Linked DNA regions of Homo sapiens. The protein of the gene in region 1 interacts with the protein of each later gene in a pairwise test. Each region holds a gene or a part of one and is shown in the gene's direction. Other genes may lie near its edges. The genes, in order: SLC30A4 and PEDS1-UBE2V1.

Region 1 (3,818 bases):
TTCTTTTTTTTTTTTAGTCAATGTCTCACTCTTGTCACCCAAGTTGGAGTGAACTGGTGCCATTATATAAAGCTTACTGCAGCCTCAGACTCTTACACTCAAGCAGTTCTCCCACCTCGGCCTCCCAAACAGCTGGTATTACAGGCATAAGCCACTGTGCCCCAACCTTACTAGCCATTTTTTAAATGCTGAAAAGCCACATGTGACTAGTGGCTACACCATTGGACAGCTCAGATACAGAACATTTCTATCATCTCAAAGTTCTATTGGACAGAATTGCTTTAAGGAATTATCCTCATTATAAAATGATAAGTATGCTAAAGCTCAAAAAAATTAACTCATTCAGACTTTCTGAGATTCCAAAACTTCATGTTGTTTAACACCAACCTTCTCTTGGTGCTTTCCAGCTTTTTCATGCCGGGGAATACATAAAAATGCTATTTGTATAGAGCACTCTGGGGTAAATGGATGTGACTAAAAGATCATCAGCCCCTAGTCTCCTGCTCTTGTCTCTACACACCCAGCTCAGGAATGAGGAGGATCAACAGCTCAGCACACTTACCTGATCATGCAGTTCTGCTGTACATTATAACAGTGATTCTCGAAGTGTGGTTCCAAGACTTGAAGCATCAGCATTACCTGGGAGCATGTTAGCAATATACATTCTCAGGTCCCATCCCCATCACCATCCCAGACCTACCGAATCAGAAATTCTGGGAGTAGAGTTAAGCAGTTTGTAGTTTAACAAGCCCTCCAGGTGATTCTGATACACATAAAAGCTTATTCAGTGAATAGTGCTAGGAAAATTGGTTGTCCATTATGGGACAATACAGACACACAATGAAACAATGTATAATATATATATTAAATGCCTGGAAAATCGATAACAAAAATTGTATCCTAAATACTACCTTTTGTACCCCTCTTCAGAGATGTTGCTAAGTGAATCAGTTAATTTTTACATATTTTATATCGAACTAATGTACATTTTGTAGGTTTTCTCAGTTTAATTTTATGTTCCAACGCCCCTCAACAAGTGAACACCCTTCTTTTCTTCAGCTTTGTTGTAATATTTAGATATGGTTATTAATTCACTAATAGTAGAATTAGTAAGTTAAGCAAAAGCTTCAGTACCAAGACACAAAATCACTATATATTTGCCTTGTGGTTCTTAACTTTCTAAAGGTCATTGACTCCTTGCAGCATGTGTTACTAGAAATGGATATTCTGGCTGGACACATTGGCTTACGCCTATAATCCCAACACTTGCAAGGCCGAGGCGAGTGGATCAGTTGAGGTCAGGAGTTTGAGACCAGCCTGGCCAACATGGTGAAACCCTGTCTCTACTAAAAATACAAAAATTAGCCGGGCGTGGTGGCACGTGCCTGTAGTCCCAGCTACTCGGGAGGCTGAGGCAGAAGAATCACTTGAACCCAGAAGGCAGAGGTTGCAGTGAGCTGAGATTGCACCACTGCACTCCAGCCTGGGCAACAGAGTGAGACTCTGTCTCAAAAAAAAAAGAAAAAAAGAAGTGGATATTCTCACCAGAAAAATGAACCTATATCTAATATTTTGAATGAAATTTCAGAATACCTTGATTTAATTGTAATGGGATAAAGATTTAGTTAGAAGTTCATGTTTTGTAGGATATTGCATATTTCTAGTTTGATTGCTTGCTTTTTTAAAAAATTAACTTGTTCCTTTTTTCTCCTACTTGTAACTCTAAGGTGGATACATTGCAAATAGCCTAGCAATCATGACAGATGCACTTCATATGTTAACTGACCTAAGCGCCATCATACTCACCCTGCTTGCTTTGTGGCTATCATCAAAATCACCAACCAAAAGATTCACCTTTGGATTTCATCGCTTAGGTAGGTAGTTGGTGTTTCTTTTGCTTTATAATATTTTATAGTAAAACCACAATGAACTATAACCCTGATTAACTGAACTCGTTCCAGTGATATCTTGTTTGAACAAAGCAAATGAAAATAGATAAACAAAATTTATTCAGAAACATCTTTTCCAGGGTACATTTAGCCTAGTCAGCTAAACAGTTTACACATATAAAATTATATGATGATCATTAATCTTCAAAGGTTGCTCCCTATGTCCTGAAGATATCATCAGAAAAAAGTTTACTTTCAGTTTATTGAACAAAGCAAAACCACATGGGTTTAACCCGTTAATGAGCATTAGCTTCTCTCTTTTACTTCAGGTATTTCAGCCAAAGCTACCATAGCTTAGATTTTAAGCAGAGCTATCACAGGTATAATGTATGCTGTGTGGCTGAACTTGACTGCAGCCATCGTATCAACATAATTCTGCAAATGCACACATTTTTATTTGCCTGTTTTGAACAAATTTTAATGTTTAATTATAAAGAGTTAAAATCATACATTGCTATCTACACAGCTCTGCTTCTTACTGTATTACTGTTTTTAAATTTTTTGCTTATTTTGAAAATATGTATAAAATAATTACCTGAACTATTATATGAAGTAACATTTACCCAGATGTCAGACTCAAAAGTAGAACCCAAAAGTTGACATTTAAGTAGCTTCAGCAAAACTTGCCTCAAAGAACTAGAGTTAATATCTGATAATTTCATTTTGTAGGAACACTGATGCTCCTGGCTAATATATCAATCAATTCCTCATCATCTTTTTTATTTTTTAGCCTAAAAAAACTTAGACTGTAGATTTTTTGTTTGTTTCTTTACCTATATTTTCTTTGTATTTGTTTTTTGTTTTTTGCTTTTAAGACAGAGTCTTGCTCTGTTGCCCAGGCTGGAGTGCAGTAAACTTTTTGTTTCTTTACGTACATTTTCTTTGAATTTATTTCTCGTTTTTGCTTTTAAGACAGAGTCTTATTCTGTTGCCCAGGCTGGAGTGCAGTGGTGTGATCTTCTTGCACTGTTGCCCAGGCTGGAGTGCAGTGGTGTGATCTTCTTGCGCTGTTGCCCAGGCTGGAGTGCAGTGGTGTGATCTCAGCTCACTACAACCTCCACCTTCCAGGCTCAAGTGATCCTTCCACCTCAGCCTCCCGAGTAGCTGGGACTATAGGCGTGCACTAGCATGCTCAGCTAATTTTTGTGATTTTTGTAGAGACAGGGCCTACCTACAAGGGGGTCATCCTTTGCCCAGGCTGATGTCAAACTCCTGTGCTCAAGCCATCCTCCTACCTTGGCCTCCCAGAGTGCTGGGATTACAGGTGTGAGCTGCCATGACTGGCCCACAGCATCCAGGACCTCTTACTTAGTGACTGGGTCTTCTGGTGCAAAACTTGACACTGTACCTAAATGGTGATATTCCAAGTAGCTATCCAGGTCATCAGGTTGGAAAATTATCTAGCATCCCCACCCCTCCGTACTCTCAGCTACTGTACAAAAGAGCTAAAGCCCCAAGTGAAGTTTTTCTTTTGTTAAGCTACTGCATAATGCATGTGAATGTGTTCCTGGCCAGGCACGGTGGCTCACGTCTGTAATCCCAGCACTTTGGGAGGCCGAGGTGGGCGGATCACCTGAGATCAGGAGTTCAAGACCAGCCTAGCCAACATGGTGAAACCCCATATCTACTAAAAATACAGAAATTAGCTGGGCATGGTGGTGCACGCCTGTAATCCCAGCTACTCAGGAAGCTGAGGCAGAAGAACTGCTTGAACCCGGGAGGCGGAGGTTGTAGTGAGCCTAGATCATGCTGCTGCACTCCATTCTGGGCGGCAGAGTAAGACTCTTGTCTCTCTCAAAAAAAAAAAAAAAAAAGAATGTGTTCCTAAAGGAAACTCCACTGCTTCTCAACATATTATATAGTCATTTG
Region 2 (3,818 bases), on another chromosome or scaffold:
CAGGGTCATTTCGGCTCATCTCCCCAAAGGCTGGATGGGGTCTGTGTCTGGCAGTGGGCCAGGTGGGAATGTTCAAGCATCCCGGGTGGAGGAAACTTAGGATCAAAGGCGGGAGGTGAGCCCAGGGTGAATGTGTTTAGGGGGCTGTGGAGAGCAGCTGACCACCTTAGGCTGACTGCTGGGGCTGTGTCCCCCTCAACTCCAGGCTTTCATCCGACCCTTCCGGGAGCACCACATTGACCCGACAGCTATCACACGGCACGACTTCATCGAGACCAACGGGGACAACTGCCTGGTGACACTGCTGCCGCTGCTAAACATGGCCTACAAGTTCCGCACCCACAGCCCTGGTGAGACACCCAGCTAGTGGTGGGCTGGGAGGGGGCCTTGGGGGCAGAGGCCGACCCCCAGGAGCCTTCTGGGGCTTATGTGTTTGGCTCCTTATGGTATTTTAAAAGAGTTTTCATTCATTGTCTTCATGTAAAATCAGGAAACCTGACATGAAGATGGAGGTTTCCAGCTTCTCTTGCACAATCTGCTCTGGCCCCCCTGGGTCCATGTTCCCACCTGGCCTCACTGGGTGGGAGCTGAGCTGCAGCCACTGCCTTTGACAGGACGCGTCTTTCCAGTTTACCACCGTCCCCACTATTCCTTGCTTCCCTGCACCCAACCCACCTTGTTCATTTGTGTTACCTGCCTGGCAGGGCTTCTGGGGTTTTGCTACCGTGGCCTAGTGGAAAATGTCTAGGCTGTGAAAACAGGGCCTGCCTATTTTTAGAGGGACTGGTCCCAAAGTAAGTGATTTCACCACTCTGAGCCTCAGTTGCCTTATCTGTCAGGTGGAGGTAGGTTGGGGCCCGGTCCTGTTCCAGCACCTTAACACCCATTTGTTCTTCAGGCAGCCTCCGGTGGGTAGAGGTGGTGAGGACGTGTAGTGTAGTGGGTGCTATGGCACCCTGCCCATCCCCTTCCCTGGGGGTGCACCCAGCCCCTGCTTCTGTGAGTGGTGGCTGCTGACAGCTCCCAGCTTCTCCAGGGATGGAGGGGAGGTCCCACCTGTCTCCTTGGGATAAGGCTGGAGCCAGTGACTGAAACGCCTCCGACGCTAGTCCCTTTGCCTCTGAGTGGGTCTAATTCTAAAGAGCCGTTAACACCTCAGAGCTCCTTGCAGGAACAGACTGAGACAGGACGCCACCCACCCCATCTTTGCTCTGCTCTTCCCCTGCCGTGTCTTGCTTCCCTCCCTCCCTTCGAGGTTTTTTCCTGAAGAGGCTCCCTTGATAAATCACATGCACAAGAACCTGTTTCAGGCTCCGCTTCTAGGGAACCTGGGTGAAGGCATCATTCCCATTTTCCTGATGGGGAAATTAAGCTTCTTAGAGGCAGAGTCACCGATCCAGCCCATACTGCCAAGAAATGTCGGCAGAGATCGGAACCCAGCTCCAGCTGACTCCGGTCTACATTCCCAGCCATTGCCATGCTTATGCCATTATCCTATTACACCATTACGCCTGCTTCCTGAGCAGGAGGAAAGCCTGAAGCCCAGGGCAGCACCTGAGCTTGCCTGCGGCCCTGCAGGGGGTGGAAGAGAATCCTGGGTGCTTGCCCAGCTCAGGAGCCGCCCAGGAGCAGGTGGTGAGGGCCATTTGGGGTGGGTTCCCCGTCCCGAGTGACAGCTGTGCCGGCCCCCCCTCTCCCCAACCTGCAGAAGCCCTGGAGCAGCTATACCCCTGGGAGTGCTTCGTCTTCTGCCTGATCATCTTCGGCACCTTCACCAACCAGATCCACAAGTGGTCGCACACGTACTTTGGGCTGCCACGCTGGGTCACCCTCCTGCAGGACTGGCATGTCATCCTGCCACGTAAACACCATCGCATCCACCACGTCTCACCCCACGAGACCTACTTCTGCATCACCACAGGTGCGGCCACCAGTGGCGTGGAATGGGCTTTCCCCACCCCAGCCACTGCACCATCTTCGAGGTCAGGAGGGCAGAGATCACAGCAGGAGGTCACACAGTCCTTGCCCTCTGGGAACAGTCTCTCAGGTCATGCATTTATTGAGCACCTACTGTGTGCCAGGCACTATTCTAGGTGCTGAGGACACAGTAAATGAGACTGACAAAGCCCTCTCCCTCGACTTCATGGCGTTGTGATTCCAGCCACCCATCATCCCGTATTTATTGAGCACCTACCACATGCCATGGTGCTTTGGGCGTAGGCTCCTGCAGCAAACAAAATAGCATGAATCAGCTGGGCGCAGTGGCTCATGCCTGGAATCCCAGCACTTTGGGAGGCCAAGGCGGGTGGATCACTTGAGGTCAGGAGTTGGAGACCAGCCTGGCCAACATGGTGAAACCCCATCTCTACTAAAAATACGAAAAAAAATTAATTGGGCTTGGTGGCAGGCACCTGTAATCCCAGCTACTCGGGAGGCTGAGGCAAGAGAATTGCTTGAACCTGGGAGGTGGAGGTTGCAGTAAGCTGAAATCGCACCACTGCACTCCAGCCTAGGTGACAGAGACTGTCTCAAAAAAAAAAAAAAAAAAAAAAAAACCAGAAAACACGGATCCTTGCCCTTGTGGCACTCACCATCTAGTGAGGGAGCTGGAACGAATGAATAAAATGTGTAGCGTGGCTAATGGTGCTAACTGCTATGGAGGAAAATAAAGCAGGGGTGGGAGAAGGAAGTGGGGGCTTTGCCTCTTAAATCGGGTGGTCAGGGAAGGTGACACTTGAACAAAGACCCCGAGGAGCTGAGGGACAAAGCCGTGCAGACCTCTGTGGGAGGCACTCTAGGCAGCAGGAACAGTAGGTGCGAAGGCCCTGAGGCTGGCCTTTGCTTGCTTGGTGTGTTTCCGGAATGGCAAAGAGGCTCCTGACTGGAGTTGAGGCAGAGCAATGGAAGAGGGAGAAGCGGGCAGAGCAGTGGAAGAGGGAGGAGAGAAGGGGGCAGAGCAACTGAAGAGGGAGGAGAGAAGTGTGGGAGGGCCCTGAAGATAGATGAGCACAGATTAGAGCAAAGGTAACAGGAAGCAGCAGGCCAGAGGCAGGAACATGCCCAGTGCAGTGGAGGAAGGGAAAGGAGGCCCACGTGCCATGCTCAGTTAGCAGCCAGTGCGAAAGAGGTGAGGTGAACTGGGAGTTTCTCTGGAGCCAGCTGGGCTGCTTTCAAGGTTAAGTGTATCAGGTGCTGTCAAGTCTAACTCAGGCCTAACTCTCAGCTTCTCCACATGTGCCTTTAGGCAACTCACAAACCTCCCTGGGGACCGCTTTTCTCCTTACAAAATAGGGCTGCAGCCGCCTCCTTCATATATCACCTTCTTAGGGCCATAGTGGGAATGGCAAATGCGGTGTTTGGCATATAGTAGGTACTTGATAAATTACAGCTACTATTTTTTTTTAGGTCTTTCTGGAAACAGAACTGAGAACCACAAAAAAACATTCTTTTTCATGTCCTCAATTTGTGCTCCTTGGAAGGCAGGTGGAGGGATTAGAATTCAGGCTATTTAGGAGATGGGTTAACTACTTAGGCAGGGCTGAGTTCCAATCCTGGTTTGGCCACCTGCTAATTGGGAAACTCTTCTCTAAGCCTCAGTGTGCTCATGTGGAAAATGGGACTGATATTAGTATCTACCTCATGGTGAGCTGGAAGGCTGTAAGATTGTGAGCAATATTTATTCAGCACCTACTCTGCGCCTGGCTGTATTCTAAGCACTGAGGATCAGCAGTGAAAGAACATGGTGTTTTGCATTTTGGGGATAACGTTCCAGTTGGGGATTGGGGGGTGAACAAACACAGAACAGGAAAATAGAGAAT

Evidence for each region.
Region 2: the proteins of SLC30A4 (region 1) and PEDS1-UBE2V1 interact in a two-hybrid assay, tested with the Homo sapiens proteins (one large-scale study listed by BioGRID).

Annotation. Positions count from the first base shown.
Region 1 is NC_000015.10:45,509,194-45,513,011, reverse strand, and holds part of SLC30A4 (probable proton-coupled zinc antiporter SLC30A4), read left to right. Parts: intron 1-1,727; coding exon 1,728-1,874; exon of another isoform or gene 1,875-1,876; intron 1,877-3,818. UniProt on the Homo sapiens protein: Probable proton-coupled zinc ion antiporter mediating zinc import from cytoplasm potentially into the endocytic compartment. Controls zinc deposition in milk.
Region 2 is NC_000020.11:50,126,078-50,129,895, reverse strand, and holds part of PEDS1-UBE2V1 (TMEM189-UBE2V1 fusion protein), read left to right. Parts: intron 1-205; coding exon 206-350; intron 351-1,708; coding exon 1,709-1,921; intron 1,922-3,818. Other genes in the region: PEDS1 (plasmanylethanolamine desaturase 1), read left to right, coding at 206-350, 1,709-1,921.